Homo sapiens: one gene and its partners. The protein of the gene in region 3 interacts with the protein of the main gene of each other region in a biochemical or structural test. Each region holds a gene or a part of one and is shown on either strand. Other genes may lie near its edges.

Region 1 (9,416 bases), on a different chromosome or scaffold from region 3:
TTTCAGAAAGCACGAACTGTCATTTCAAATGAGACTCTGAAATATGTTGCCACTTACCTACTGATATGGTCCAAACAGCAATGATTTTCAGAAATGCCTTAGTTCTGGAGTTGAAGCGGCTGTGGTGGATGGGATTCTGGATGGCGACGTAGCGGTCCAGCGAGATGGCGCAGAGGTGCATGATGGAGGCCGTGGAGAAGAGCACGTCCAGGTAAATCCAGACTGCACAAAGCTTGCTCGGCAGAGGCCACCGGTACCCTATGAGGCAGAAGGTTGGTGTCAGTGAGCAACCCTGTGCCTCCTGGAGCACATGTATCCCTATCCTATGACAATTTCCAGCTCTGGGACAGGCACAGGTGGTGGCAAAGGGCAACACAATATATTTTTAGTATTTGAAAAAAGCCCACTGGCAACTGTACTTAACTATGATAAGCTAGCACTGGCTGATGAATGCAGGGTTTGAAAATTTCTAGTGTCTGGAGTTATGTGAGTGTGGCACGGTAAGCTTGGATGGTCTCTATTTGGGGGTTCTCTTTCTTCCCCCTTACGCCTGGCAAAACATTTCTTTTGTTAATGGCTTATGTCAAAATTTGTGTTTTGGCTCCTCTTCTGGAGCACCTCTCACACTGTACTGTCAGGATTTAGTCACATATTTCTCTGGATTGTATTTCCCTAAGGTTAGTCTCACCTCTTAGTCATTATTATAACCATCCAGTCCCATACAGTGATGGCAATAAATTGCATTAGTGCAAATGACTAAATGACTAAAAATTCAGATTGTGAATATGTCTGTTTGTAAAAATGAAAAATAATGATCTAATAATGCTTTGGGTGCCAAACTCAAATTTGGGGTATGTGTAGGGAGAGCTGAAGACAAGGGTGAAGAAAAATAAAGAAAGGTGTCCTTGCTCTGAGCTTTGTTTTAGGGAGGCATTTCTCAAACTTTAGTGAGCATCAGACTCTGCCACACCTCTTAAAACACACACTGCTGGACCTCCGTCCAGAGGTTCTGATGCAGTTAGTAGGGAGCAGGCTGTAGAATTTGCATCTGAATTAGCAAGCTCCCGGGTGATGCTGATGCTGCTGGTCCAGGGACCACGCTTTGTGAATAGCTGCTTTAGGGTAGTGGCTCTCACCCCTGGCTGCACATCAGTATCAGCTGGAGAGCTTTAGAGAAGGTCCTGATGCCCATGCCAAACCCAGCCCAATTAAATCATGTTTGGAGGGTGGGCTGAGGTGGACATCAAATGTCAAAGCGTTTGCAAAGCTTTTTCCAAGCTCCCCAGACAATTCCAATGTAAGAGATACTGCAGGTCACCTGCTATATGAGGAAGGTTAGAGTGTGCTTTATGGACATAAACAAAGTGTCCTGGTTTTGTGTTTTGGAGGGGGATTAAGCAGTTATGTAAACCTTAATTAGTTTTGATCACAGTATAAGCAGCGGAGTTAGATCTGCCTGCATGTAAGAAGGAAAATTTTAAAGTCCACTTTTCTTATTACAGACCCACAAAGCCGAACAAACTCCAACGCAAACGTACACTCTCTACCAAAATGCCACAAGGGATATTTAGACAAGTAAAGGGCGTAGGTACAAGCCTAATTTACAGCCATTCACATGTATTATTTGCAAAGAGCTTGAGCCGAAAGGAAAGCCTTTTCCTTTGCAGCGCCTTATGGGGGAAGCCACGCTCTGTCTGTTCGGAACAGATGTCGGCCCTCGGAGGGGTTTCTCTGCCAGGAGGCGGCCCAGGCCTCAGTCCGTGTTTCTGATGCGGGATAAGGAGGGGGCATTTCCTTGTGGGAGAAGCCCCATGCCCCACGCCCCGTGGGCTGGGGGAGGCTGGAGGAGCAGCCTAGGGAGGGGCGGGGCTCCGGAGGGAACGGGCTGCTCTCAGAGCGGCGGCCGCCAGGGGGCGCCCTTGCTCCCCAAGCGGGTGACGCCGGGGGTCACCCCACCCTCCAGCCTCTGTTTTGGGTCCCGCTCTGTCACTCCTCCTACCCCCACTGGAGTTTGCCCCCTAGGGGAGGGGGTTTGGGAAGCGAGAATCTTCCCCGGGATGCCGGGGAAAGGGCAGGCAAATTAAATGAAATCATTCCGGTGTGGCATTTAAATGGTCAAGTGAAGGCTGGACTTGGAATGAGTGTTACTAGCTTTGTGCAAACTGGCGCCTGCTCGCCCTTGCGTACCGCCTTCCTCCTTCACATTCTCTAGGGCTGGGTTGATGTTTTTTAATCTTAGCCCCTAAGACTTGACCAGAAAATTTCCCTTTAAAGATAGCTATCATAACCTGTCTCTAAGCTCTGAGTGACTGCTGCTTGTGCCTGTGTCAGCAGTCACAATAGTCTCTCCTTTAAGGAGGTATCTGGCTGTATTACTCATAATTTGGAAAGAATATCACATTCTGGTCCCTTGCTGAGAGGTCTGACTGTTTCAAACTCTGTTGAGAAGAAAGCAAGATTAATCCCTTCCCATTTGTTTCCCACCCTCCTCCAAACCAGACTGGAGGAGTTTATGCATATGCATTTTCAAAGAGTTGAGGATATAATTCAAAGGCACATTTCCAAATTAGCTTCTCTGGGCAGGGAACAATTAAAACTGGAGTAATTCATTTATTCTAATTGAGGTTCTGCATATTTTAACATAAAACCTATTGCACCACTAATGTTCTCTCTGCAAATGTTCCAAAGTAATTGGGAAGGCTTTATCACTCCATTAAAAGTGCTGAAAACTGTGTGACAAAGATTAAAACTGTTCTGTCCTGAAGGCTGGAATATTGGTTGGGAATATAAAGAAGCAAAAATCAAGTAGATTCAGAATGATGGGTAAGTTATTGGTTTATGACTGTATGGGGTAATTTATAAAAATTTCTACATTAAATGTACATGTTTTGAAGCACAAAACTCTCCAATGATCATTTTTACACAGGATGTACGCGTTTTGAAGCACAAAACTCTCCAGTGATCACAGGTCATAGACTGTCTGATTTTTATGTGAAATCCCATTTTAAGAGTAAAATATAAGTAACATAGTAGGCTCTAGTCTATAAACAAAGACTTCTATTTATAGTTTGTTTGCCCCCTGAGCCCCATCTCATCTGCTGGTGGCATGCACATGCTCTTTATTACCAGTGCGAATATAGCTGGGAAACTAATGCCACTCACCATACAGGATGGTTAACATGGACACGGGCATGACAAGGAAACCCAGCAGCATATCAGCTATGGCAAGTGACATCAGGAAATAGTTGGTGGCATTCTGCAGCTTTTTCTCTAGGGACACTGCCATGATGACGAGTATGTTTCCAGCAATAGTTAGAATAATCACTACGGCTGTCAGTAAAGCAGACCAGTTTTTTTCCTGGAGATGAAGTAAGGAGAGACACGACGGTGAGAGGCACCCTTCACAGGAAAGGTTGGTTCGATTTTCAGAGTCGACTGTCCAGTTAAATGCATCAGAAGTGTTAGCTTCTCCGGAGTTAAAGTCATTACTGTAGAGCCTGGTGTCATCATTTAATTGCATTAGGGAGTTCGTAGTTGAGCTCAAAGAAGTATTTTCTTCACAAAGAATATCCATGTCTAAGCCAGAACTTGTAGCAGATGAGGTGTAGAAGGACTAACAGGTTATAGTTTCTGCTCACCATTCACCTTGATGTACCCACACTCTGTAACACTGAGGCTGGTGTACATGCTGTTCTCCCGGGGCTGGATTTTTGTCTTCCATTATTACAATGATAGTTAAAGAACTGAACTGTGGTGGCTGTAAGTTTTCTTCATTCACAATTTTAGGAGAGTCCACTGTTTGGTTTTATTATTTTCTCACCAAACCGAGGACAAAAAAGCAGAATGAACTTTTAGCATAGAGGTTGCAGGGTTTTTTTTGAGCGCTCGGGAAGATAAATGTCCTGGACAAAGAAGAAAAGTTTTATAACTACTGGGACTCTTGTTTAACTATATCTCATTTTGTTGGTTATGCCGATGGTACTAGTTTAGCAACAGTATTATTAAAATAGCATGCAATCAGAAACAGTGGGGATGTACACATTCTACATTAAGAAAGTCAATTAAAAATACATCCAGTGTTAATCCCATAGTAATTGGATGTACTTTGGGTTACAGTTCTCAGCCATTCTTAAGCTGAATTGCCACAGCTGCTGTCAGGAATTTCAGCTCCTATAATGTTGCTTAGCTAATAAAAGGAAAACAAAAAAGTCTTAAGTAAAGATTAGCAGACAACTTTCCTCCCTGGAAATTCTCATTGAAATGATTACATGTTGGCCAAGCATGATTTCAAACCGGAAAGAAAATTACACAGCAATAAAATATAGCGGCATGAGAACTTACATTTGTCTTCAGGGTCCACACATGAGATACATTTGTTATTCTGTGACTCGCTGCATCTCTCACAGTAATTAAACTGGTGTAGAGTCCCCTCTTCTTGATCTTCCACCAGCATAATATGATAGTAATTTGGTTTCTGTTTTGCTGACTTCAAAAACTGCATGCAAGAGCTGAGCCAGCTCCCGCACTGCTAGGATCCTGTTGGCTTCCTCTGGCACGGCTCGGCTGGGTTCCTCCCTCCCTGTGCGGCTCGCCTCAGCAGGCACACATTTAGAAATCATTCACGAGCCCCTCAAAGTCGCACAAAAGAACTGCATGGGAAAGTAGGAAGAGCTGTCTGCACCAAGGGACTCCTGGTTTCCACGGGAATGGAGTAGCTCTCTGACTGTCTCGTTCATTTCATCAGACCTCCCTCTATGTGTATGTCATAAGCTGCAAGGTAGCAACAGCCAGGAGGGCGGACCAAACAGGCTTTTTCTTCTCCCTCTTTTTGCTACATATTAATATTGGGAAGTTTTCCTTTGCTTTTGAGAGAAACTGGAGAAATGGCCTTTTGTGCAGATTCCCATTAAGGTAGGTAAGTGGCACTGTGGTAATTTTTTAGGCTGAAGGGTGAAGAGAGAACATAAATAAGGCTAGAAAACAGTATGTCCTCGGAGTGCTGTGAGTGTCCGGCACTTCCATCCAAAGCCAACAGTGTTTGTGTCCAGAGTGGAATTACTGACATTGGCCACATAGGCTCAGGGTGGCTAGGCACGTCTGTGGTGATAACTCTGATAAACTATTAGCACTATTTTTATTTAATAGATACACCATTGAACTGGCTTATTTTCTTCAGCAGAAATATGCCACCCAGATATTATTCAAAACCTCACATGTGGTAGGAAATAAGTTGGTTTCGCAGTACCAATTTTTTTCCCCCACCAGTAATGACAACTTGCCTTACTTGTAAAGAAAGCCCTTTCCCAAGTAGGTTTCTAAAGGAGGCAGTTCGATCTCTCTCTTTTTGCAGGCATGAAAATATTTTCCTCAATAGTTGGGTTTTGCTACAGTTCTATCACCTTCTGTTCTTCACATTCTCCCTGGACAAATTCAACCACTCTCATGCCTTCAATATGTTTGTGGCCAAGTCTGTACCTTCATAGCTGATTATTTCTCTCAGTTCCAGACCTAAATCTCTAGCTGCCCATTGGCTCCTTCCATGGTAGCCTGGGAGACCTTGACCTCAGCATCTTCCCTCACTCCGCATCCCCCTGCCCGGCTCTCAGTGCTTGTTCCTACCCATTGGCTTGCATGATGGAATCACCACCTCTTCAGACAGCTGCTGTTATCCGCGACTCTTCCTTCATTCTCGCTGCCAGATCCCACTTCGTCTCCGGTGCTACCTCTGTATGCGTGTTTCTCACATGTCCTCTCCTGCAGCCTGCAGCTGGCACCCTGTGGTCGAGATCTAGCCACCTATTTCCTGGGTGGGTGCCTTAGTGCCCCCCTCACTGCCATGCCTGCCACCCTCCTACCCCTCCACGTTAAATATGCACGCTGGCGAGCAGGCAGCGGAGAACACAGACCTTAGAGTTCCTTGGTTTTGGATCCTAGCTCTATCACTCATAAACAGTAGAACCTCGCCTCATCTAGTTGCTCCCTTTAAAGCTCAGTCTTCTCACTTGTAAAATGGGATAATACCTTCCTCATAAGATTGTAGTGAAGCTAAACTGAGATAATGTGTGTAAGTATTTGGCCCATGTCTGGCTTATAGGAGGTTCTCAAGTAATGTCAGCCACTTTCATTCCTATTGATATTCTTACTGATATTAATGACACAATTGGCATCACTCCCATGCCTACACTCCTGCAGTCCCTTCCTTGTGGGGCACATAACACTTTTCTTCATCTACCTGTACCCTGCTTGCCCCACTTTGCAGGCCTGGACTCTGGTTACTCTCCCAGTCAGCCTGTATGCAGACTGAACTTACATGTTTCTGACCATTTTTATGTCTCTGTACTTGTACTTCCCTGTGCCCGGAGTGCTCTTACCATTCCTTTTTTGTGTGTGTCCATCTGGCAAATTCGTGCTTAGTTCCAGAGCAGCTCTGGATCCCAGGCCTACCACTCACCACATCTGTAAGCGTGATTAAGCTACCTAATCTCTGTGTTTTAGTCTCCTCATCCGCAAGTAGGGAACATTAATAATAAAAAGACCTCAGGATTGACGTGAAAGCCAAATAAATTTACATATTTGCCTGGCACATTTTAAGCACTCAATAAAGGTTAGTTGCTATTATTCTTACTAAGTTTACTGTTCCTAAGCTTTCTGTAGCCCTCCTTCCCAGTGGAGGCAAAGACTATAGCACCTTCTGCAGCCTTCTATTTTTAACACATCATGTCTCATGTAAGCCTCATAAAGGCAGGAACTGTGTCTATCTTGTTAACAGCTGGGCGCATAGTGCTTAAGTATGTTTGTTGAATGAATGCATGACATCTGTGTAAATGTCTGTCTTCTCTATTAGATGTTGAACTTCATTTCCATACCCTTAATATAGATGTAATCTATATTACATCTATCTTATACTATTATATTATCCACCCAGATGCAATTCATAAACCTCACATGTGGTATCTAAGCATGGTATCTCATAATGGAAGGTCCTCAACAGATGTGTTCTGACTGAATTGTTATTAGCATAAATTAAGATGAATTGATTATTAAAAAGGAGAACCAGGGAGAAACTTAGAACCTCTCATTTTTTCTTGTTACTTTGTTTATTGGGATACCAATTTAATTTTATTAAAGATAGCAGAGGGAAATGTAATATAAAAAATACTCCAGTGTCAGGAAGTTATTCAAAAGTTTTCTGAGGTTAAATTTTATAGATGTTCTTGTTATAGCTCTTAGAGAATTCTGATGATCTCAGTCCATTATTTCTCATGAAGAACAGCTAGGCTTCTAGTCATGCCAAAACTAATCAGTGTTTCTTATTATGTGGTTTACACTGGGAAATATTTTTTTGGCTACCATCTAAGATTATTTCTAGTTTTTATTGCAATTTTATGAATACTTGTTATGGACAAAGCAGTAGGGGCATAATCTAGGCTCCTGATTCTTAAACAGAGCTTCTAGGTTAATAGCATGAGGGTTAGATTAGGTAGGAATAGTTTCTTGCTGGGCAGATGCCCCTGTGAGTTTGGTGAGACGAGTGTGTGTTGGCTGCTGTAGTGCGCACCGTGATGCCTCGCCCAGCTTCTGCTTCAGGGCTGAGACTCGGGCTCCCTGCTGCTGGAAGGATTGGTGGCTGGCTCTCCACTCTTTCTGTGAACACTCCCCTCAGCCAAGGAAGCCAGCTTGCCAGTGGTCATGCCCCTTCTCTGTGGCAGCCAGCATGCAAAGACTGGTCCATTGTGAGGATATAAAGGGCTGGCCCTCTTGCCTGATGGCTGAAGAACTTTGGTTCCAGTGCTTCTATGGGATTCACTGAGGCCTTTGTTGTGTCAAATCCAAGTTAAATATCTCCCCTTGTCCAGTCTGGCTTCTCTTGCTCCCCTGCCGGTGTTGATCTGAGAGCTCGCCCCACACAAATCTCTTGCACACACATCAGTCACAGAGTCAGCTTCCTGGGGAGCTCAACCTATGACCTATCATCTTTAGCTGTGTATTAATGCCTTGAATAACATCTCTGGGTGAGTTGGATGTCTTACACAAAACAGATAAGTGTTGTCTATGTGATGATGAATGATGCTTCCTTGCCATAAGCTTAGAATTCTTCAATATACATCTGGCTTTGCTATCTAATTACTGCCAGAAGGAATTTAAGGTTAACAATACCAGAACTATATTTATTATCTTGGGCAGAATTTCTCTAGTTCTTAATTGGACCATATATAGGAATACATTTTATAACTAGTTCATTTTGGAAGATTCACTAGAAAGTGATTGCTTAAAATTAGATGTTAATATTTTCTCAATGACTTCAGTGGTATTTGTAGCCTTTGTTTGAATTTTTTTCCAGGCTAAAGTTATTGGGTTTCTGAAACTGTAGTGTCTTACATATGTCAATGTATATGAGAAAAAAAGGTTCCTTGACCAATTAAGTCTGGAACATTACTGTATCTTATAGTCTCCTCTTAGAAATATACAGTGCATAATTGCATATTAAAAGCTGTAAGAGATCCTGCAGTAAGGAAATTTGTTTATATTTATTTCATTCCTCTTCATCCAGAACACTCATTGAAAGACACTTTAATTTTGTCTAAATTGAGTTATATTTTAAATTTATTAAAACATAATGCTCTTAAGTATACAATTCACTGAGTTTGACAAATATGTACACCCATGTAACCATCACCCAAATTAAGATATCCACCATTTTCATCATTTTTGAAAGTACTCTCCTATCCTTTTTTGACTTTAACTTAAATGGACACATGTGGCCCTCCTTCCTAGTGGAGGCAAAGACTGTAGCATCTTCTGCAGTCTTCTATGTCACGCTTCTTTCACTCAACAGTGTATCTGTGTGTTCATCCATGTCACTGTGATTAAATGATTATTTAATGGATTGTAGTCTGAGAAACTGAAATGGCCTGGACATTTGGGGTTTCAACATTTATTTTTTTTCTTGTTCAAAGGAACATAGAATAGGTCCCTTTTCTTTGTTACGTTTGTCCTTTTTAAGCTGCTTAATTTTGCAAGACAGTGCCAACCTTAACCTTCACTCAATTGATTATGCCTGATTTTGTTATGAATTGGCAGCATAGAATTCTTTTACTCTATGATATTTAAGAATATGTCTCTAAGATTTCTGCTGCTCAAACATTACTAATGGCCTGAGAATGAGGAAAAAAATATTAACAGAGGGTTTACTGACTGACATTTTATCTATCACTTCCTTTTGGTGCTCTGATACTTAGGTTTGGAACAAGCCAGACCATCGGACCAATGTATATTTAGAAAACAATATCATGAACTGCCTTCTATTATGGCACTGGCTTGTATCTAAAAAAAAAAACTACTTGAAATTAGCTAATGACTGTCATCTATCTTTTTAATTTTCTCACAGTGGCACCGAGTTGAACAATATTCATTAA
Region 2 (9,417 bases), on a different chromosome or scaffold from region 3:
ACCCCCTAAATTTATAAAAGTCAAAAAAAGAAAAAACTAAAACAATGTCACTCTTCTTGTTGATTTTGTTTTGGAAAATATAGCTTTTTTTAATAGAGCTAATTATTTATGTTAACATGTAATGGATTTACTATTGTTATTTTAAATAAATGTAGACAAAAATAATTTAAAATTTCAATTTTAATTTCAAAGACATTAAATGCTGATGGATATAGCTCATATAAAGGCAAACTCTCTGGAATCCTTAATAATGTTTGAGTATACAGAGATCACTAGACCAAAAAGTTTGAAAATTCATAAATTAAACAATTAAGTAGTCACTAGTGAATGCATAGAAGACAGATTTGGTTTGTGGTAAAGCTAAAAAATTGATTCTTATGAGATACATTATAAATGTTGATAAGGAAGACATGAGAGTGACATATAGGTTTGGCAGTAAAGTTTGGAAGACAGAGTGGCCACCACCTAAATTAGTATACAGATTAGAGAAAGCATTTTTAAAATTCAGTTGTTCATTTTTTCTTAAATTAAATTATAAATTTAAGGAGATCCCTGTCAAAATATCCAGGCTTTTAGAATAGAACAAGGCAAGTTAATGTTAACGTTAATATGGAAAATTAAACTTTCAGTAATGTCTACACAAGCTCTAAAAAATGCCTAATGAATAGGGACTAACCATATCAGATAATAACATTTATGTAATAGCATTTATAATTAAAAGTGTGAAATTGGCATTTGATTAGACAGTGTAGTGGAATAAAATGTGAACTTCAGAAACATGTCCAGGCATATAAGAATATTTAATATACTATAAAGATGGCATCTCATATCACAGGACAGATGGACTTTTTAAATAAATAGCATGAGACAATGGAAGAATTAGTTTTAAGAGACTAAAATTGAATGTGTATGTCACAACGTACAAGAATAAACTCCAAATGTATCAGAGGTCTAAATGTAAAAATGAGAAAAATATGTGTGATTTATTGTCCAACCTGAGTTAGGGGAAAGAATTTGTTGCCATTACTCTCAACATAAAAAGGAAATCTGATTGACAAGATGAACTACATGAAAATAAAATAATTTTGTATGGCAAAATACCATAGCTATATCAAATAGCAAACAGAAAATATTTTCATTTATAACATGTTAAATGGTTAGTGTCTATAACTTATAAAGAGCTATTAAATTAAGAAATAAAAATGAAAAAAAATCAGAAAAAATGAGCAAAAGGACACTTAAAACTGATTTAGCAATGGCACTGAAGTGGTTTTCATACATTTAATCATATGAACTTCAGCCAAATAAAATAGATGCAAATTAAAATTACACTGAGGTAACATTTCTCACTTATGGGATTTGCAAAATCTAAAAAGTTTGAAAATAAACTTCATTAGCAAGGCTTTGGGGAAACAGAGGCTTTCTTGCATTGCTGGTGGGAATGCAAAATGGTTCAACTCCTAACTACATGTACCCTTTGATCAATCAACTCCTCCTCTAAGAATTTATTTAGAAGATAAATTCTGAATACATTTGAGCAAGAATTTATTTAAAAGTTAAACTTCCAATAATATGAAACACACACATGCACGCGCGCGCGCACACAAACACACAAGACAGACACACATGCACGCACGCACACACAAAGGACACACACACACACACACACACACACACAATTATTCTTAGTAGAATTATTGGCAACTTCCAAATGTTGGAAACAACTTACCTGATTATACACAGAAGATTGGTTAAATAAAGTATATCAACACAATCTATTATTAGTGAGTGTAAAAAATAATAGAATGAATTTAGCTTTTAATTGGAGTATTTAGGCCATTTACATGATAAAGTTGGGTGCATATCTATCATCTTACAAATTGATAGAGTGATTTCCAGGACATATTTCCAAGTAAAAGAACAAAGCAAAACAAAGTATTAATTTGTATGTAGCATTTTAACTTTTAATTTAAGAATGGAAAAATAACAATACGTGTATTTGTGTATAATCTTTTTTTTTTTTGCAAAAATAAATTCAAGAAGTATGCCCTAGAAACTAATGAATGGGTTAACCACGGAATAGAAGAGGAACTGACTCTTCTCTGAGTATTTTATTTGCCTAGTTTTGACTGTTGGAGCATCATATTAAAGTTTTACATATTAAAAAATAAAGTCAACAAGGTTGGGGAATACATGCAAAAACAAAACAAAATCCCTAAATGTGAACAATTGGTATCAGAACCACAGAGAAAAAAAATTCAAACTAATCCTAGCATTTTGAAGACAATGCTTTGACTATATGCCATTGGTGGAAAACATTCTAAAGATAAAATTGCAATGAAATTTTAAACATTGCATTTCATTTATTGGTAGTGGTATGGGTATAGAAATTCTGAAATTAATTTCTTGTATGGTAGGATATAGAAAATATAAATAATAAATATATCAATGGTTTGGGGACAAAGTTACTCACTGTGAGAAAAATGAGGAAAAATAAAGAATTGGAAAGTAGCAAGAGTCCTGTGTTCGTGAATTGGGATTAAAGGTATTGATATATAGGAGCAATGATATCCTATTAGCAATGAGCATACTGAGCTTCTGCATCCTGCTTTATAAAACCATTGCCCACTAAAAGGGTTTCTTGTAAGAAATGGCTAATTTCGGAACTGGGGCATGGAAAGTAAAAGGTGAGTCTGGCAAATGCTCAAAAGCTGATGGGATATATGAAAAGGAGTTCTTATTAGAAAAATATGAGACAATTTGAGCATCAAAATAATTAAGGGCAATAATGAATCATATATATTACACTGAATACAAAAGAATCCAGGAGTCTCCACCAACATGAACTAATAAATAACAAAGACTTGGAGGGAAAACACTTCCTTACAGTATAATACCAACAAATAAAGGCAGGAAGAATAATAAAATGAGAAAAATTATCATTGTATCACCTTAGTAATAGATAGCTTAGGGAAGAATCATCAATGGATTTGAAATCCATTAGGTCAAAGTTTATTGGGAAACAATTTCTTAATTTCCAAATATACGAAGGTTTTTCTACTATTTTGAAGTCATTTCTATTTCTTTTGAATTTCAGTCAAAGAATAAACAATTTATTCCAACCCTTTGGAATGTGTTGAGGAATTACTTTATGGTCAGTTTTGATAAATATTTCTTGTGCAATGATGGGAATATGTATTCTTCACTTGTCAGTGAGTTCAGGTTTGTTAATTGTTTTCATACAATCGCTGAGAAGGATGTGCTAAGATCTTATGCGATGATTGTAGACTTGTCTATCTGTCCCTGAAGTTCTGTCCTCTTTTACTTTATAATGTATATACTATGTATATTACATATGTATCTACATATAATTATGTACATACAAATTTATTACCTTATGTCTTCCAGATGTATTAAATCTTTCATAGTAAGTAATCTTCTTTCACTGGAGTATTTGTTTTTTGCCGAAAAGTCTATTTTGACAAATATTAATATAGCTATACAGTCTTTCTCTTGGATAGTGTTTAGATGGAGGAATTTTTTTGTTTGTTTTTATCCTTTTACTTTCTTTATGCTTTATATATGCCTCTTGTAACATATAGTTGTCTTATTTTTTTGAAAGCCTATATGACAGTCTTAGAATCCTTAGTAATTCATATAATTAGGGATATATTTGGTTTTAATTCTGCCATTCAGTATACGTTTTATATTTTTCTATCTTTTATTGACTCCTTTTGGATTTATCTTATTATTTCATTTTATCTTTTATTTGTAGAGACAAAGTGTTGCTTTCTCATCAAGGCTGAAGTGTCATAGCACGATCATAGCTCACTGCAACCTCAAGACACTTGAGTTCAAGTGATGCTCCTGCCTCAACCTTCTGAGTAGCTAGGGCTACAGGCACATGCCACCATACCCAGCTAATTTTTAATATTTTATAATAATCTTCTGTAAATTTGGAAATTCGCCATCTCTAATCTGCCACAGAGTTCTTAGGTTTTCATTTTTTAATTAATTAATTTTTTTTGTGTGTGTGACAGAGTCTCACTCTGTTGCCCAGGCTGGAGCGCAGTGGCATGATCTCAGCTCACTGCAGACTTGACCTCTGAGGGTCAAGTGATCCTCCCACCACAGCCTCCCAAGTAGCTGGGATTACAGGCGTGTGCTACCATACCTGGCTAATTTTTGTATTTTTAGTAGAGATGGGGTTTCATCATGTTGTCCAGGCTAGTCTTGAACTCCTGGCCACAAGTGATCCGCCTGCATCGGCCTCCCAAAGTGCTGGAATTACAGGTGTAAGACACTGCCTGGCCCTTAGTTTTTCATATTATGCTTAAGTTCCATATTTTCTAGGTGTTTCTCAAATCTTAATGTCATTTGTTATAGTTTGCAGTTTCTTGCTGAAGTGTTTAAGATCAGCATGTAATTTCCATGTGCACATTCCAAATGATTATTTAAAGTGTATGTCTGATAATTCAATTATCTGAAGTGTTTGTAAGTTTATTTCTGTTATCTCTTATTGTCCCATACCTGATTCATGTTGTATTGTCTCCTCATATATCTGCATATCATTGTATTTCAGTGACAGCATTTGAAAATTATTGAAAGAAATAAGTTGAAATCTAGGATTATGGGGTTTTTTTTGTTTGTTTATGCCCCAAAATTGGAAACCTGAATAATACGAAATCATCTTAATCCAATTTTAAGGCCCAAGATTTCTCTCATTTACATAGATGACTTGAACCAGGGCTGAATTCCATGTCTATGGTGATTTAATCCTGGTCGATCCTTATTCCTAGTGTCTGGTTTTTTTGTGATCCCAGAATTAAATTCAGGTTGGTTGGCCCTTGCCAGACTCTGTATTCCTACTCTAGTCCTCCATTGCTTGCGAGTCTGAAATGATCGTCTCCACCTGTCAGTCATATCTTCAGGTTTATAATGCATCATTGGCAAAAGTGAACTAGAAGTCATAATCATTTTTCTTGGGTTTTTGTCTTTTTCTGGATCTTAGCCAATAGCAATTTCTATTTCATTAGCTTCTTAGGGCTTTTAGTGTTTTATCCATGTGTTTATTTGCCTTTAGCACAAGAGTCATTGCAAATTACTCAGTCTTTCATTACTAGAAGCTGATGCAACAATATTCTGTCTGTGTATTTCCTTTGTAAGCACCATAAAAGCTGGCATCTTTTTAGATGAACTCTTTGTGATGGCTAGGGCAAAATCTGTGAACTCTTGAATTTGTAAGTCAAACTTACGTAAATTCATTTTTGTCTTTTGGGACAAGCTTCACGACTTTTTATTCAAAGGTGTCTATGCTATACACAGGCAGAACAATCTACAATAGAACAATCTTAAAACTTAAATGTATTTGATCAATAAACCCAGAGTCAAAATATTTAGATGATATTAGTGAAGATTAAATAGAAGTCTTGATCTTGTTGCACACTTTACCTCAATCTTTACAAAAACATAAATATGAAGAAAAATTATTTACACCAACTGGAAAAGGAAAAAAACATGAAAGTAAAACCCCTAAAGTCCAATTGTTTAAATTTCTTGGCTTTAATATTAGCACTGTTAAGGCATTTATGAATACCTCAAATATAAGCAATAAATGATCATTTCTTTCCCTTTAAACTGCTACAAATCTTTAAAGAAACAAATTTTTTTTTCTTTTTGTATACCCAGAATTCAAGAAGACAATTAAAACTGAGAGAAAATAGTACATTTTAGGTGTCATAGCAACAAAAATTTAGACATATTTACTTGATGATGATTTAGATTGCATTATTAATTTTTCTACTGAAAAGGATAGGAATTTAGAATAAAAATACTAAGGTTAATATTCTGGGATACATGTAACTTTTCAATATAAGATTGAAATGTTATATTTTTAAAATTTAGACTTTAATTAGACTTTATGTCTTTCTCATTTTCAAAGCATTTTAAATATTTCAAACATTTTGTATCTGTGTTGCAGAATTCATTGGCATACTAATGCATAAAATAATTTAGCAGCATAAATGGAAACTTTATATTTACATATTAATACACATTACATTCCTTTCATTATTGTTAACCTAAATATCAGATAAATAGGTTAAGAATAATTACTAAATAAAAGAACCCGATCAAACGCAAATGTTACCAGTCGACGTCTGTACGTTGTTCACAGTACATAATCCGAAAGTATTGAGCATAGCCGCTGCAATTCTTATGGCCAAAAAGTTTTATTTACCTATAGAAATTGCCCAAACAATAGCAATCTTCATGATGGCCTTAGTCCGCGAATTGAAACGGCTATGCTCAATAGGATTACGTATTGCTACATACCGATCCAGCGATATAGCGCAGAGGTGCATGATGGACGCTGTTGAAAATAAAACATCTAAAGAAATCCAGACGGGGCACAAATATCTAGGTAGTGGCCAGACATAATCTGAAAGAGAACAGAGAGAAGACAAGAACACGTCATCCAAATTGTACTGACTATAGTCTCAAATTTTAGTCTGCTTATATTTTCTCATAATCTAAACCTTTTAAAGAAAGTGAAATTTAGGAAGCATTATTTTCTATAGGGATGATGATGGTGATCATGATAATGATACCTTCAGCGTGACATATATTTTATTGAGGTAAAATTTACACAACATAAAATTAATCTCTTTAAAGTGTACAATCCAATGGCATCTAGTACATTCACAATATTGTGCAACTAGCATCTGTCTCTAGTTCAGAAACATTTCATCACTCCAAAAGGAAACTGCATACCGTTAAGCAGTTACTTCCCATTCTCCCATCAACCAGCTCCTGGCAATCTCTAATTTGCTTTTTATCTTTTTTTTTTAATTATTATTATACTTTAAGTTTTAGGGTACATGTGCACAATGTGCAGGTTAGTTACATATGTATACATGTGCTATGCTGGTGTGCTGCACCCATTAACTCGTCATTTAGCATTAGGTATATATCCTAATGCTACCCCTCCCCCCTCCCCCCACCCCACAACAGTCCCCAGAGTGTGATGTTCCCCTTCCTGTGTCCATGTGTTCTCATTGTTCAATTCCCACCTATGAGTGAGAACATGCAGTGTTTGGTTTTTTGTCCTTGCGATAGTTTACTGAGAATGATGATTTCCAATTTCATCCATGTCCCTACAAAGGACATGAACTCATCATTTTTTATGGCTGCATAGTATTCCATGGTGTATATGTGCCACATTTTCTTAATCCAGTCTATGGATTTAACTAATTTGGATATTTCATATAAATAGAATCATACAATTTGTGACTTTTTGGGTCTGGCTTCTTTCACCTAGCTAATGTTTTTGAGGTTTATCTATTTCGTAGCATGTATCAATACTTAATTCTTCTTTGTGGCTGATGCTGTTATCAATTGAGGTTTTTTTGGAAGCTGTTGTAAATAGAATTGTTTTCTTAAATTCTTTCATGGATTGTTCATCACTGTGTATAGAACTACAAATGTCCTGCAACTTTGCTGAATTCATTTATTAGAGCTATGTTTTGTGTTGACTCTTTGGGATTTTCCATATATAAGATCATGTCTTCTGCAAATAGAAATAATTTGATTTATTCTTTTCCAATTTTCCTCTGCCTTTTATTTCCTCTCTTTGCCTAATTTCTCTACATGGAATTTTCAGTACCATGATAAATAGAACTAATGAAGTTGGGCATTCTGCCTTTTTTCCCTGATCTTAGAGGAAAATCAGTCTTTCACTATTGACTGGGTTTTGTTTTTGTTTTTTATAAATGCCTGTCAAGGACATTTTCTTTTATTCCTAGTTTGTTGAACATTTTTTTATCATAAAAAAGTGATGGACTTTTGCAAATGCTTTTTCTGCATCAATTGACATAATCATGTGGTTTGCATACCTTCATTCTATTAATGTGATACATTACATTGATTAGTTTCTGTATGTTGAATCCCTCTTGCATCCCTGAGATAAATCCCATTTAGTAATGGGTATATAATATGGTGCTGAATTTAGTTTGCTAGTATTTTATTGAAGACTTTTGCATTTATATTAATAAACAATACTAATCTATAATTTTCTTGTAATGTCTTTAGCTGGCTTTGATATTAAGATAATGCCAGTCTAATAGAATATATTACAAAATGTTTCTTCATCTTCTATTTTTTAGAAGAGTTTGAGAAGAATTGGTGTTAATTTTTGAAATGTTCGGTGAAATTCAAAAGGAAAACTTCTTGTCTTGAGCTTTCATTGTTGAGAGGTATTTGATCACTGATTCAATGTAGTTACTTTTTATATGACTCTTCAGATTATTTCTCCTTGAGTCACTTTTGGTAGTATGTGTGTTTTTAGAAATTTTTACATTTCATCCAGGTTATTTAATTTACTGGTGTATAATTGTTCATTGTATTGTTTTATAATCCTTTTAATTTTTTTTGAGATAGGATCTTGCTCTGTTGTCTGGGCTAGTTTGCAGTGGTGTAATAATGGCTCACTGCAGTCTCAACCTCCTGGGCTCAAGCAATCTTCCTAACTAAGCCTCCTGAGTAGCTAGGGCCACAAACATGTGGCACCATACCTGTCTAATTTTTAAATTTTTTTTTGTAGAGATGGGTTTTCACCATGTTGCCTAGGCTGCTCTTGAACTCATAGGCTCAAGTAATCCTCCCACCTTGGCCTCCCAAGGTGCGAGGATTACAGGCATGAGATACCACACCAGGAGGATTGGCCAGCCAATCCTTTTAATTTCTGTAAGGTTAGTAGTAATACCCCCACTTTCATTTCTGATTTTTGTAATTTGTGTCTTCTCTTTTTTCCTTAGTCTGTCTATCTAAAGATTTGTCAACTTTTTTGATCTTTTCAAAAAAAGGAAAACGTTTGGTTTTATTAATTGTCCTTATATTTTTCCTATTCTTTATTTTTTATATTTCCACTAAACTTCATCATTTCAGTTATTTTGTGAGTTTGGGTTAAACTTGCTCTACTTTTCTAGTTTCTTATGGTATAAAGTTAGGTCATTAATTGAGTTCATTTTATTTTTAAATGTAGCCATTTACAGATATAAATTTCCCTCTGAGCGCAGCTTTTGATGCATCCCATAATTTTTTGGTATATTAAGTTTTTATTCTGCCATTCTCAAAATATTTTTGAATTTCATTTGTATTTTCTTCTTTCACTTATTGGTTGTTTAATATTGTTTAATTTTTGCATATTTGTAAATTTTTTAGTTTTCTTTCTGTTACTGATTTCTACTTTGAATAATAATATTTTAAATGTATTAGGATACTTTAAATAATAATAATATTTTAAATGTATTGACATTTGTTTTGTGGTAAAACTTATGGTCCATCCCAGAGAATGTTCCATGTGCACATGAGAAAAAATGTATTTATTGTTGTTATTAGATGGAATGTTCTGTATCTGTC
Region 3 (5,903 bases):
TATCTTTAACGAATTTTAATTTTTTTATGCTTCTAACTCCATCACTGTTCTGATATATGAATTTTACTGATTGGCTACATTACCTTGCTATTCCTGCTGCTAATATATGTGTGTGTGTGTGTGTGTGTGTGTGTGTGTGTGTGTGTGTGTGTGTGTGTATATATGAAATACTTTATTACTGTTATTATCCTTTTGGAGTGGTATGAAGAATACCAGAAATCTGTGGTATTTCCAGTTTGATTTAATCAAACGTAATTATATTTATGGAACCTATTATGGGCAATCCACTGTTTTGGGTAGTATGTTGGCATTAACATTGTAATAGTCAAGTCTTTATTTAAACTCTTTGTTCAAGTACTTTCTTCTTTCTTCTTTCACCACAGACAACTACTATATTTCCAGAAAGAAAAAATATAGCAAGCATAAGGCTTCATTACTTATCCCCAGGACTTATGAATCTATATTCTTTTCCTCTCAAACTTTACTTTCCTTCCTCCCTCCCTCCTTCCATTTTCTCTTTAATGTGCTTTGTCTTTGTTAATTAATAGCTACTCACAGAGTTTCTCCTGTTAGCCAGACATAATGACAGTAGCTCAGGACACAAACTTTTTTTTTTTTTTGAGACAAGGTTTTACTCCCATTGCCCACTGGAGTGCAATGGTGCGATCTTGGCTCACTGCAACCGCTGCCTCCCAGACTCAAGTGATTCTCCTGCCTCAGCCTCCCGAGTAGCTGTCTGGCTAGTTGTTTTTTTTTGTTTTTTGTACTTTCTGTAGCGACGGGGTTTTACCATGTTGCTCAGGCTGGTCTCAAAATCCTGAGCTCAAGAGATCAGCTCACCTCGGCCTCTCAAAGTGCTGGAATTACAGGCATGAGCCACCACGTGCAACCAACATTTAAGATACTCTAACAGTTTCCCAGTGCTTAAACAAAGTACCACAAACTGTGGCTTAAAACAACAGAGATTTATTTTCTCACAGTATAGAGGGCAGAAGCCTGAAATCAAGGTGTCAATAAGGCCAACTTCTTTCTGAAGGCCCTAGGGAAAAAACATTCCTTGTCTCTTCCAGCTTTTGAGGGCCCCCTAGGTATTCCTTGGCTTGTTTGTTTTGTTTTGTTTTGCCTCCATCTTCATGGGGCCTTCTTCCCTATGTCTGTGCCTTCACAATACCTACTTACACAGAAACCAGTCCTAGGATAGAGAACACCCTAAATCAGCATGAACTTAACTCATTACATCTGCAAAGACCCCATTTCCAAAGGTCACGTTCTGAGGTTCCAGATGGACATGAATCATGGGAAGACACTATTTAAACTGGGCTGTTCTTGTTGGGGGCACTTAGACATTATGAAACTTGAAGGGGTTGGGTGGCTTTCTCCCATACAGTCTGGTATGGAGCATCCTCTATAAAAATTCTTTGCTAGCTCAAACTCAGATGTGAGGTTAGTTCATCTTCCAGCAGCCTACCATGAAATAATGGCATCTTTCGTTATGGAGAGCCACTAAATGATGGCTAAGAAGGTAGATGTGTCACTGGGATACTAAAATGAGTTTTGTTACATTGAGCGCCTAAATTTACAATGATTGGTTAACAACTTTGAGTTGTTACAATATGCAGTTTCTTCTATTCGTTTTGTGTAACTAAGAATCACGGAATTCTTATATTTTAGAACTAAATAGAACCTTTGTGATAAAATAATCTATCATTTTACAGATAAGATGAATGAGAGGGAAATGCACGTTTGTTAGCTAATTTGGTACAAAACTAGTAGAACAGAGTTCCCCTCATTCCTTGCTCAGTGTTCAAGTTGGACTTGTCATGTTTATTAATACAAATAATTTTGATTATGATTTTGTCCATCTGAATACACTTGAATAGTTCTTGACCACACAAAAGAGCAACTTACAATATTACTGCATTAACAGCATTTGAGAAAAACATATACAGGCAGGATACTTCTCTTTCTACAATGTCATCTTCCTCTCATCTATGAGGAGTCTATGAATCTTTAGTGCTAGAAAAAATTGTGGAGGTAAAAAATATTAAGCTTTCCATAATGATGTTGTCCAAAGTTCCTTTAGCTGTAACTATGGACACCATATGTGCAGTTAGACATGATAAAAACCAATTTTAAGTTGTAAATCTTGAACAGTATATAACAAAGCTTTTCCACAGTAAAAAGAACAAAAAAAATGCTTGCTGCTTATTTGTGCACCACTGAAAATTCTTATTTATTCACTTTAATTCTGCATTTACACAAAAATGCTGTAATAAAATATCTGTACACTACTTCTGTTACAAATATAGATATTTAAAGTGACTTTATATATTCTAATGTAGGAGTTTCACGCTCTAAAATGGGAATGAACACATGATAATTCCTCACCAGTTGTCTCAATAAACAGCTCCATCTGTTTCCCTTAGTCTTAAACTATTGTATTATAAGATGTTAATATAAGTCAATGAAATGAAGTTATGTTAATCCCCTTAATTTTTCTATCAATTTACTAATGGCATACAACCAAAATAATTAGTAACACATTGTTCTCTGTCATTAAGATTAATATGAATTGAAAACCAATTGCACAGCACACTAACACATTTTTAATGTTGCATCGGTTGTTAAAACCAGCACTAAAGATTCTGGAACCCTTCTATGTTCCTCTATGGTTAGCAGCATAGTTGCTTTCTAGAAAAACCATAGTCAACATGGGGTGGCATCATCATTTACTTATAGCAACATGAAAATATTTTACAAAAGGTCAAAAATAAGAATGAAAATTGAAATGTGCATTAAATATAATTTCTTTATAAAATTTAGGGACATTGCTTCATGTATTTGCCATTTACTCAATTGTAGAAACCAATTTTAGCAGGAAAAATATATATGCATATTAGAGGTGGGGAGATGCAATGTTTTTATAATACTGTTGAAAATTTTAAAATACTGACAGTATTTTTAAAGATTTTCATTAGAAAACCTTTTTTTCTTTTTTTAGTTTGGGGTGGGGAGAGGAGGTAGATTGCCAAATTGAGGCATTTTTTTTAAACTCCCCGAGATTTTCTTCTTTATTTTATATTTTCATTTTTCATCCTAATTTACTGAAGCCATTTTCTTTGGTTAGCTTTAGAATTATCTTTCTTTATACTAACCAGCTTAGCATGTAATAATTCTTGCCCATGTGACTACAAAACATTAGATATCTCCACAAATAAAAACGAGATTCACCTACACAAATATTCCTTCTCTTTAAGTTCACAAAATGCAAGAAGAAAAGAAAAATGATGTTAGGTTGTCAGTAAGGAAAGCATTTCTAGATGAGAAAAAGAAACTTAAGTGTTATTTCCCCCCTACAGTTTTGAAGACCCGGCTGAACACAGCATAAAAATTGTCAGGACCAGTGCATTCTCTTTACAGTAGGAGGTGAGCTAGGGGTTGGGTTGGTTCAATTCTGGCAGCCAATTCAAGAGAGAACCATCAAAGTGACAGTGCCTTTTGTCCGTTTAAGGATGGCAACAGCTTCTTCATGGGTGACTCCTTCTAGACTCTGCCCATTGACAGCAATGATCTGATCGCCCCTTTTCAGACGTCCGTCTTCAGAGGCTGCTCCCTGCAAATTATAAAGTAGACTTGTTTATTTCTCAAAAAATGCTGCCTTGCAACTCACAACAGAAAAAGATCTCAACAGGAATGTAAATTGCTCTGCTTGTACACACACACTGCTCCCAGTGCTCCATGGGTGCTCTAAGCCATTAAGCAATGATGAACATAGACAAAGAAGGTCTTTCTCCTAAATGGTTTTAGCATTGAGATACCAATTTGAGAGAGAATTTAGCAGTCGATAGATCAGTTGGATGGGTTTTTGGCTGTTCAGCACAGCAGTTGGTGGGAACACAAATTAATAAAGAATATTTGGGAATTTGCCTAGTAGGAATGATTCAATAGAATCCAGGATTTTCTATCCTGTAAATAAGACCTACAGAAAGAAGGTAAAGGATTAGGTAGGAACAAAAACAGTTTTACAGGACAAGGGCTTGGGGGATGACAAAATCCAAAGGTCTGCAAAAGCACAAAGCCACCTGAACATTCCCTATGGCAGGATAAGGCATAAGTTCTAAATTTAAAACCCACTGCTATTTCTTTTTGTGGTTTTGAAAAAGCTATTCAAGCTGTCTTAGTTCTTACTTCCCAAGGGTAGAGAGATTCTTCATATTCCTTATGGACCCTAAATGATTAAGATTAAATACAGACATTGGTGTTAGAAAAAGAACCCCATCTTAAAGCACGCTTATAGAAGACAATTATGCAATTAAATATAAAATTAAAAATATGGAAAAGTTAATGAGGAATCCATAATGATGAAATTCTTAAAATATGTTCTAACTAGCATGCCTTAAATAAATTGTTCCTAGGCTGAGGAAAAGGACTGTATGACTCTTCTATTCACTAGCAAATGCTGTTTGTATTTTTGGACATACCGATAGCTTTTTTAAAAATCTTATAAATTAAGCCTATAGCTAGCTTGTTGTAGGTACAACACTTTAAATTGGCTAAAAAAAAGATCTTTTCCAAAATAATAAAATAAAATATCCATAAAGAACTATACCACTAATCCAAAGGCCCTGTATCAAATTTTTAAACACGTTTGACTAAGTTTTGTTTCTTTTGACACTGTAAAATTTTGAGATTCTAAATTTTTCCCTGCAGAAAATCTTGTCGAATTTTGTAGCCCCTGAAAAACGACTTAACATATTAACAATAATTACATGGGTTTAAATTATTTTAATAGCTTTACCAGTACTGCAATATCTTTATTCTTATTCTAAACCTTCTTAAGCTAGAATAGGTATTATATAATTATAACTATACAGTCTTTTTAATTGAATCCCTTGATTGCAAATCGCTGACTTATTATAGATGATAGGGCTGCTGGATACTCCCTACATTTTTTCAGTAGTTATTTTTGTTTTATTCAATGAAATTAAATTTATAAAATAAATGCTTATTAATTTTCATGTGTACTTTATGTACTTCTCTATAACTATTTTATATTTCACAACAAAAAAATGCAAACAGAAATACCAGTGCTCTACAGCATACTTATTTAAAATGTCCCATTTTCAAAAGACGATCATGTGCAATTTGTGTTCAAAGAAAAAAAAATAGGCTTTACTAACCAAAGTTCATTAATATTTTTATGTATATTGTTGAGTTTCCATGGAGTTTCAATTTGAGCCTATTTTCCTTTAAATATAATGAAACCTCAAATTGGACAAAAATATTTAATGACCTGTTCCTGTAGGGAGTTTTGAAAAGAAATGATCAACTGTTAACCATTTGGCATTACCTCAGGCCATAAACTAATAAGCCAGCTGCTGACCACTATTAATGAATGTTTAGGGGAAAAGAGGGTGGTTAAAATTTGCAAGCTTACCTTTGCAAACACTGTTTTAACATAAATGGGTAAGTCTCCATGAGGGCTGCCATATCCTCCAACTATACTGAAGCCTAAGCCATCTGGTCCTCGCTCTAGTGTAATAGACTTACATTGAGGAGGTCTACGGTGAAGGAAAGGAAAAAGAGGTTTTAAATTAAAAAAAAAAAACTATACATATATGTTATGAATTATCTGACATCCACCTAGAGCTAGCATAATTCTCTTTGTTACTGACAAGGAGTATATTACGGGTATTTTTGAGATGCTTAAATTGTCAGTGCATGCTGTGCTTGGTATTTTAAATTTACATAATCTAATGAAATCCTACTTAACACCCTAATTCTATTACTCATTTACAGTTCCCTTAAACTAACATATTCATGGCATGTTCTCATTGTACAGAGAAGCTCATTCTTTTTCCAGTTTATTTAAAGTGAGAGGGCTAAAGTTCAGGGGACTATAT
Region 4 (5,676 bases), on a different chromosome or scaffold from region 3:
GCGCCACCCCCCTCATGTGAAATTAAGCTAACTTCACTAGCTTCTGTCTTCTTCTATTTCCTCTCTTTCTTGGGCCCATTTCCTCCCTAATGGCTCTCTCTCACTCCAAACACTGATGGGATGTTTAATTATTTGTTCAAAAAGAACCACTCTTGAAGTACTCTGCTAGCAGCTTTGGGGTGTCTGAGATGAAGAACATCTGTCCCTCAGGAAGATGGAAACTTGGTCATCATTTAAGGGGGACAGGTAAGTCTCTCTGCAGGCTAACACCAGTTGACTCCTATCAGCTTGTTGGAAAAGACTGTGACTTCTAAGGCACCTGGGCTCAGTTGGAGGGTGTGGTGGCAGATGAGTGATGTCTGCATGGCCAGGGTGGTGGGAGACACCAGCATGGGAAGACCAGGTGTTTGCCATCACTGAGGTACAGATCTGGATTCCAAGTCTGGTTTCATGTACTGCTCCATGAACTTGGGCAAAATGTAACTCTTGCAACCTCTTGGGCAATTTAACCCCTGAGCGTCCGGACAATTCAATATTTAACAAGTAAATGATACCACTGACACCAGTAACCCTGGCACATACGGGAATTTTATGTTAACCGATTTTAAGTCTGGATATAGTATGGGTGGGGACAAGACAAAAGCCAAAATAATAAAAAAATCAATTGTAAGAGCCATAAAAAGTAAAGAGTGTTGTGGGAGTTCAGCGACAGCTTCCCATTGAGATGATTTTGCTGGTCTTGAAAGATGGGGTCTTGCTGGAGAGAAGAGACAGTATGCAGTCTGAGAATGGAAGCAGAGAAGAGCATGGGGCATACTCATGGGCCTTTGATAATAGGAGAGAAGTAGGAAGGAAGGCTGGAGCAAGAATAGAGAGCTTTGAATTCCTGGTCAAACACTGGGATTAAAAAAAAAAAAAACCACCACCACCACCCAGAAATCTTTATAGCAATGTCAAGTTGTGCAACACACTTGTACAATACTGTTTGCACCTAAGAGAAAGAAAATTAGAATCAAGCTTTTGACTGTATAATTTTACATGGGTTATGTCAGTACAGGAACACCGCCCTCCCTGCTTAATAAGGTGAATTGGCCGTGGAAAAACTTATTAGGCATATGAACGAGCTGGTCTTGACAGCCTCACATTAATACATCAAGGTAGACACTACTCCCATGAGCTGAGATTTCAAGAGCTAATCTGCCTAATGTCACACAGTGGTTAAGTGGTAGACACAGGGGTGGCACTGAGATTCGAACCAAGTTTGAGCCTGGGCACCAAGACCTGGTATTCCTTTCCAATGAAAAGCTAGGCTGGTGAGGAAAATTAGCTAGACTCTTAACACAGGGGACTGTCAACTGCTTCTAACGCAAATTTCTCACACATGACAAAGGCTAAATGACAGTGAAAACATTTGGAAAGAAAAGACTTCTTTGTTTTGTGGTCAATTAGCATTCATTCCTGTCTGCAATAAAATAATGGGAATTGCCTGACTGAAATGTGGGTCTGTTTTTCACTGATTATTGACGCATTCCTTGCCACACAATTCCCTCTGGATTTTAAAAGGATTCCTTTTCATTACAGGTCACTTTTCACCCCTTCCCTTTCCTTTCAGGAGACATTTCTGCAGGTGTAGATGTCACGTCAATAAAGACAGTCATGACTGAGGGTGTGTGGGTGCCTCATTCTTAATAAGATTATGTGATTCAGGGTGCTTCCTTTTGTTTCAAGCTGAAGAACTCTCAGCCTCTGTTTGGGTTCCAGTGGTCTGGACGGTACCAATTGGGCATGCATAATGTTTCACCCACATGACAGCACCCAGCTCATACATACTAAGCACCTTCTCTGTATCTATTTTTCAATTTAAATAGAGACCTCAGGTTGTAAGACTAAAATGAGAAAATATCACACGTATGAAAATTCTTAATATCTGTTGAATCTCGAAGCATGTAAATCCTAGCGTGATCTGATAGCCCTGCACATATTTTATGAAAACTGCGTACAAAACTTTGTCAGGATGATTGCACTTTAATGCTTTAAAGTTTAATCTCAACGAATCTCAACAATCAAATGACTCCACTTGATTTATATATGTACATTTTATTAGAATTCTTCAGAACTGTCAACAATTGGACAACATACAGGAATAAAACACGTGGAACACCAACATCCTTTAAACTTACGCCGCTTATGTATTTACACATAAAGTTACTGTATATATAAAAAATATTTTCAAGGACTCATGGGCTTGGGAATATTCAAAAGACATTATTGCTACATTTCAATATTTACAAAAAAAGCCACAAAATAATTTCAAACATTAAGCCACTGCAAAGAAACATCTGATGTAAGAAAAAATTATAAAAATATAAACTTTCAAGAATATCCAAGACAAAACTCTCAATGAAGTGCCCCTGAAGTACCTAGACATCTATAACTAACAACCACTTTTCTTACTATCATTGAAGTCAATAGAAACACAAAGGAATTTTTCAGACAAAGTATGGCAAACAACAATCTCTTGGGTGACAACACAACCCCAAAATCTGTTAACTTTGGAAAGGTGCGAGAGCATAGAACTCCAGTGCAAATGGTTACTTCCAGATAACGGCCACAGTTCTCTAAATGTAGTCTAAGAAATGTAGAAGGGGGAAACCATAAAGGCAACATACCTGAATCTTTCAAGACAACACACAAACTCTGCCATGTACACATTTGCCTTTTATATTGGGCAGTGAGGAAGGGGAGTTTTTTGTTTTGTTTTGTTTTGTTTTTAAAGAGGTAAACTACAAGAATAATATCCAGGCTACAGTCTAAAGGGTAAAATTTAAATGTTTCAGTGAGACAGTAGCATTATGGAAGGTCTAAGGAACAGGTACAGTAAGATGAGTCTAAATAACAGAGTGCCTTAAGTGCAGGTGAACTGCAAATACATAGGGACTGATGCCTTCCACTTCCTCTGCACCACTATGGAAGCTTCTGGTAAGCTACTCTAGACAGCTATGTGAAAAGAAACAAGAGCAGTACTAATAATGAAAGCCAAGTTACTTTTCAGGTACTAAAGGACCCTCTTGGACTCAGGGCAAAAATACCCCTCCAAATATTTGTCTACACACATACAAACGTACATACACATATATAGATACTGGCCCGGTGTCCAGGACATGCCTGCGAAGGAGGCTAAACCTATACTTTATTTCCTGCTACATAAGAATCCAAACTAAGATGGCAGTGTTTTCCCACTCCTGTGGGAGCCATGCAGTGAATCAGTAACTTTGTCAAACAGCATCAAATCCATTGAGTACAATGCCATTCTGAAGCTGATAGGCTTGTTCCACAGAATCTACAGAATAAGTTCATCAGCTAAAAGAGGAGATTTTGTTCAAACTGTGCTTTGTGGTTATATTGTTTCCTTAAAAAATGGTATTAACTGTTTCCTTCAAACTTATATGGCTCTTAATCTACTTCTATACACAGTGGACATAATGCCAGGGTTGTATACAGAAACGAAACCTTATGGTGTTTTCCCCTCAAATGTATGAACACGGACAATTTATAGATGCGTATATACAAGTGCTGGCTAGGGAGGCCTTCTCTCCAATTCAATGCTCTAATAGCAAACTCTATTTAAAAACCAGGTCGGTAGTATAAAAGCTCATGCAGTGGTCCACAGAAGAGCATCTTTTGTTCACACTTGGGGATCATTTTTTTCATGGCCTATGTCTCATTCCCAGCATGAAATACTAGATTTCTTAAGCCCAGGTGTTCATACTCTGTCCTTTGTTCTAATGATGTTCTGTTTTCCACATAAAGGACTTAGGTTTTCAGCTTCTAATCTTGTATCATCATACTACTATGGATGGTTCTGAAGGCCAACTGTGATTACTACCATTTATTCAGGTAAACTATCAACCATATTTTTGGGCAGAATTGGAGAAGCCTTGGAAAGGACTCTGGCCCCCAGTCCATACCTCCCTCTCTTTTTCCAAATCAGAATGTTTTCTGTTCATGGTAGAAGCTACGTTGCTATTGGGAATATATACAGTTGGAACCTTTGCAATAGGATGGTGGCTGATGACAAAAATCATCGGCCACTAAAGTGTGCTCAGAAAGACAGGATTGCAGTGGGGTGCCCACTATCCTGGAGTTGGATGCAAGTTGAAAGAAAAGAAAATAACCATCATGGAAGCCAAAAGAAGAGATCATTCCTGGAGGGGTGACCCAAACACTGATTCTGCTCAGACATCGTCGTGCACAAGCAGAGGCTGGGAGGAGGAAGCGGTGCTGCCGACAGAATTGATCCGCACAGAATGGTCTACCACGGGCTTCTGTCGGTTGGGGCTGCAGTTTGCTAAGTTGGAGTAAATCTGGAGAAAACAAGCCCATAGTCAATACAGCAGTCCCTACAACGAACATAGCAACAAAAGGCATACTTACAGTGTCAAGATCACAACTAACTGATGGAAACTCTTAAGAGAGAAGTGGTTTCCAAGAACTTTGTGGCCAAAACCCAAGTCATACTGACAAAACAAATATAAGCTTTGTTTTCCCCCTTCATTTTTCCAAGGAAATAACTTTATACAAGAAGTGGGGACAAAACATGCACAAGCTTAGCTCTTCTAAAAGGGCACACCAGGCACCAAGCACTATCTTACCTATTTAAAAGGCTTGTAAATCTCTCCAGCAACTACAACCCAATAACCAATGTAATTTGCTGGGAAACCCACGGCCCTTCCAGGGGTCTCTTGTCAAGAATCAAAGCAACTGGGTGGAAAATGCTGTTCAATTTGAAACATGTTTTGACACCCAGAAGAACAAGCTTTAACCCAAAAATTATCAGTGGTGTGCTATTAGGAAAGAAAAGATAGCTCCAAGCACACAGCCCAGGAAAGAAAGCAGCTTAAAAAAATCTGAGTCAAAGTATCACTAATTCTTGCTTAAAAAGAGAGGAAATAATGGATTTGAGTTTTCATTCCCCCACACTTCCCAAATCACTGGGAGGGATCTCCCAACTTCAAACAGCTCTTCATTCTATATGGCTTGTGGGCATGACAGCTATCTGCCATTTTCTGGCTATGCTTGTTTGATCAGAAGGCTTATTTCACTGCAGTAACAAGCTGTCTTTTCTATGCTTTTATTCTAGTTCACATCACCCCAACCCTCCAAAGGATGCATGGCCCTGACATGTGAGAGGGAGAAAATACTGACCCCGTGACCAGCATTTGAGATGAGGGAGGAAACATGGCAAATCCTTATGGAAACTTCTACTTCCAGTGAGTACAAAACTCTCCACCCTTCCCCCTCAATCTCACATCCTTCTTTGGCTCAGAACAGGAGGGCTGGGCAGAAAGAACTAGTTTCCATTGCTTTACTTCCCCTACCTGAAGCCCAATTTGCAACCTAAGATTAGGAGAGAAGGGGTTGGGAGGTTAGTCCTCACCCTGAAAGCCTGAGGAGGAGGACACACCTGGAACTGGGAGAAGGGGGATTCTATGCCTGGCCAGGGTATACTCACATGATTGGTGCTCTCTGAAATCTGCTTCTCAATTAGCTGAACAATTTGCTTGAATGTTGGTCTTTTTAGGGGATCTGCATCCCAGCAAGTCTTCATTATGTCATACCTGCAAGACAAGGGCCATTTACTATCCCTCCTCAATGCCCTCAGCTTGTTTTCAAATG

The links.
Region 1: the proteins of MPDZ (region 3) and HTR2A form a complex in vitro, tested with the Homo sapiens proteins (2 studies listed by IntAct, with this or other methods).
Region 2: the proteins of MPDZ (region 3) and HTR2C form a complex in vitro, tested with the Homo sapiens proteins (3 studies listed by BioGRID and IntAct, with this or other methods).
Region 4: the proteins of MPDZ (region 3) and KIT form a complex in vitro, tested with the Homo sapiens proteins (2 studies listed by BioGRID and IntAct, with this or other methods).

The regions. Positions count from the first base shown.
Region 1 is NC_000013.11:46,892,333-46,901,748, forward strand, and holds the start of HTR2A (5-hydroxytryptamine receptor 2A), read right to left. Parts: upstream 4,722-9,416; 5' UTR 4,342-4,721; intron 3,903-4,341; 5' UTR 3,575-3,902; coding exon 3,163-3,574; intron 259-3,162; coding exon 58-258; intron 1-57. UniProt on the Homo sapiens protein: G-protein coupled receptor for 5-hydroxytryptamine (serotonin).
Region 2 is NC_000023.11:114,845,025-114,854,441, reverse strand, and holds part of HTR2C (5-hydroxytryptamine receptor 2C isoform a precursor), read right to left. Parts: intron 6,440-9,417; coding exon 6,239-6,439; intron 1-6,238. UniProt on the Homo sapiens protein: G-protein coupled receptor for 5-hydroxytryptamine (serotonin).
Region 3 is NC_000009.12:13,103,499-13,109,401, forward strand, and holds the end of MPDZ (multiple PDZ domain protein), read right to left. Parts: intron 5,562-5,903; coding exon 5,438-5,561; intron 3,614-5,437; coding exon 3,467-3,613; 3' UTR 2,209-3,466; downstream 1-2,208. UniProt on the Homo sapiens protein: Member of the NMDAR signaling complex that may play a role in control of AMPAR potentiation and synaptic plasticity in excitatory synapses. Promotes clustering of HT2RC at the cell surface.
Region 4 is NC_000004.12:54,737,117-54,742,792, reverse strand, and holds the end of KIT (mast/stem cell growth factor receptor Kit isoform 1 precursor), read right to left. Parts: intron 5,619-5,676; coding exon 5,513-5,618; intron 4,365-5,512; coding exon 4,236-4,364; 3' UTR 2,078-4,235; downstream 1-2,077. UniProt on the Homo sapiens protein: Tyrosine-protein kinase that acts as a cell-surface receptor for the cytokine KITLG/SCF and plays an essential role in the regulation of cell survival and proliferation, hematopoiesis, stem cell maintenance, gametogenesis, mast cell development, migration and function, and in melanogenesis.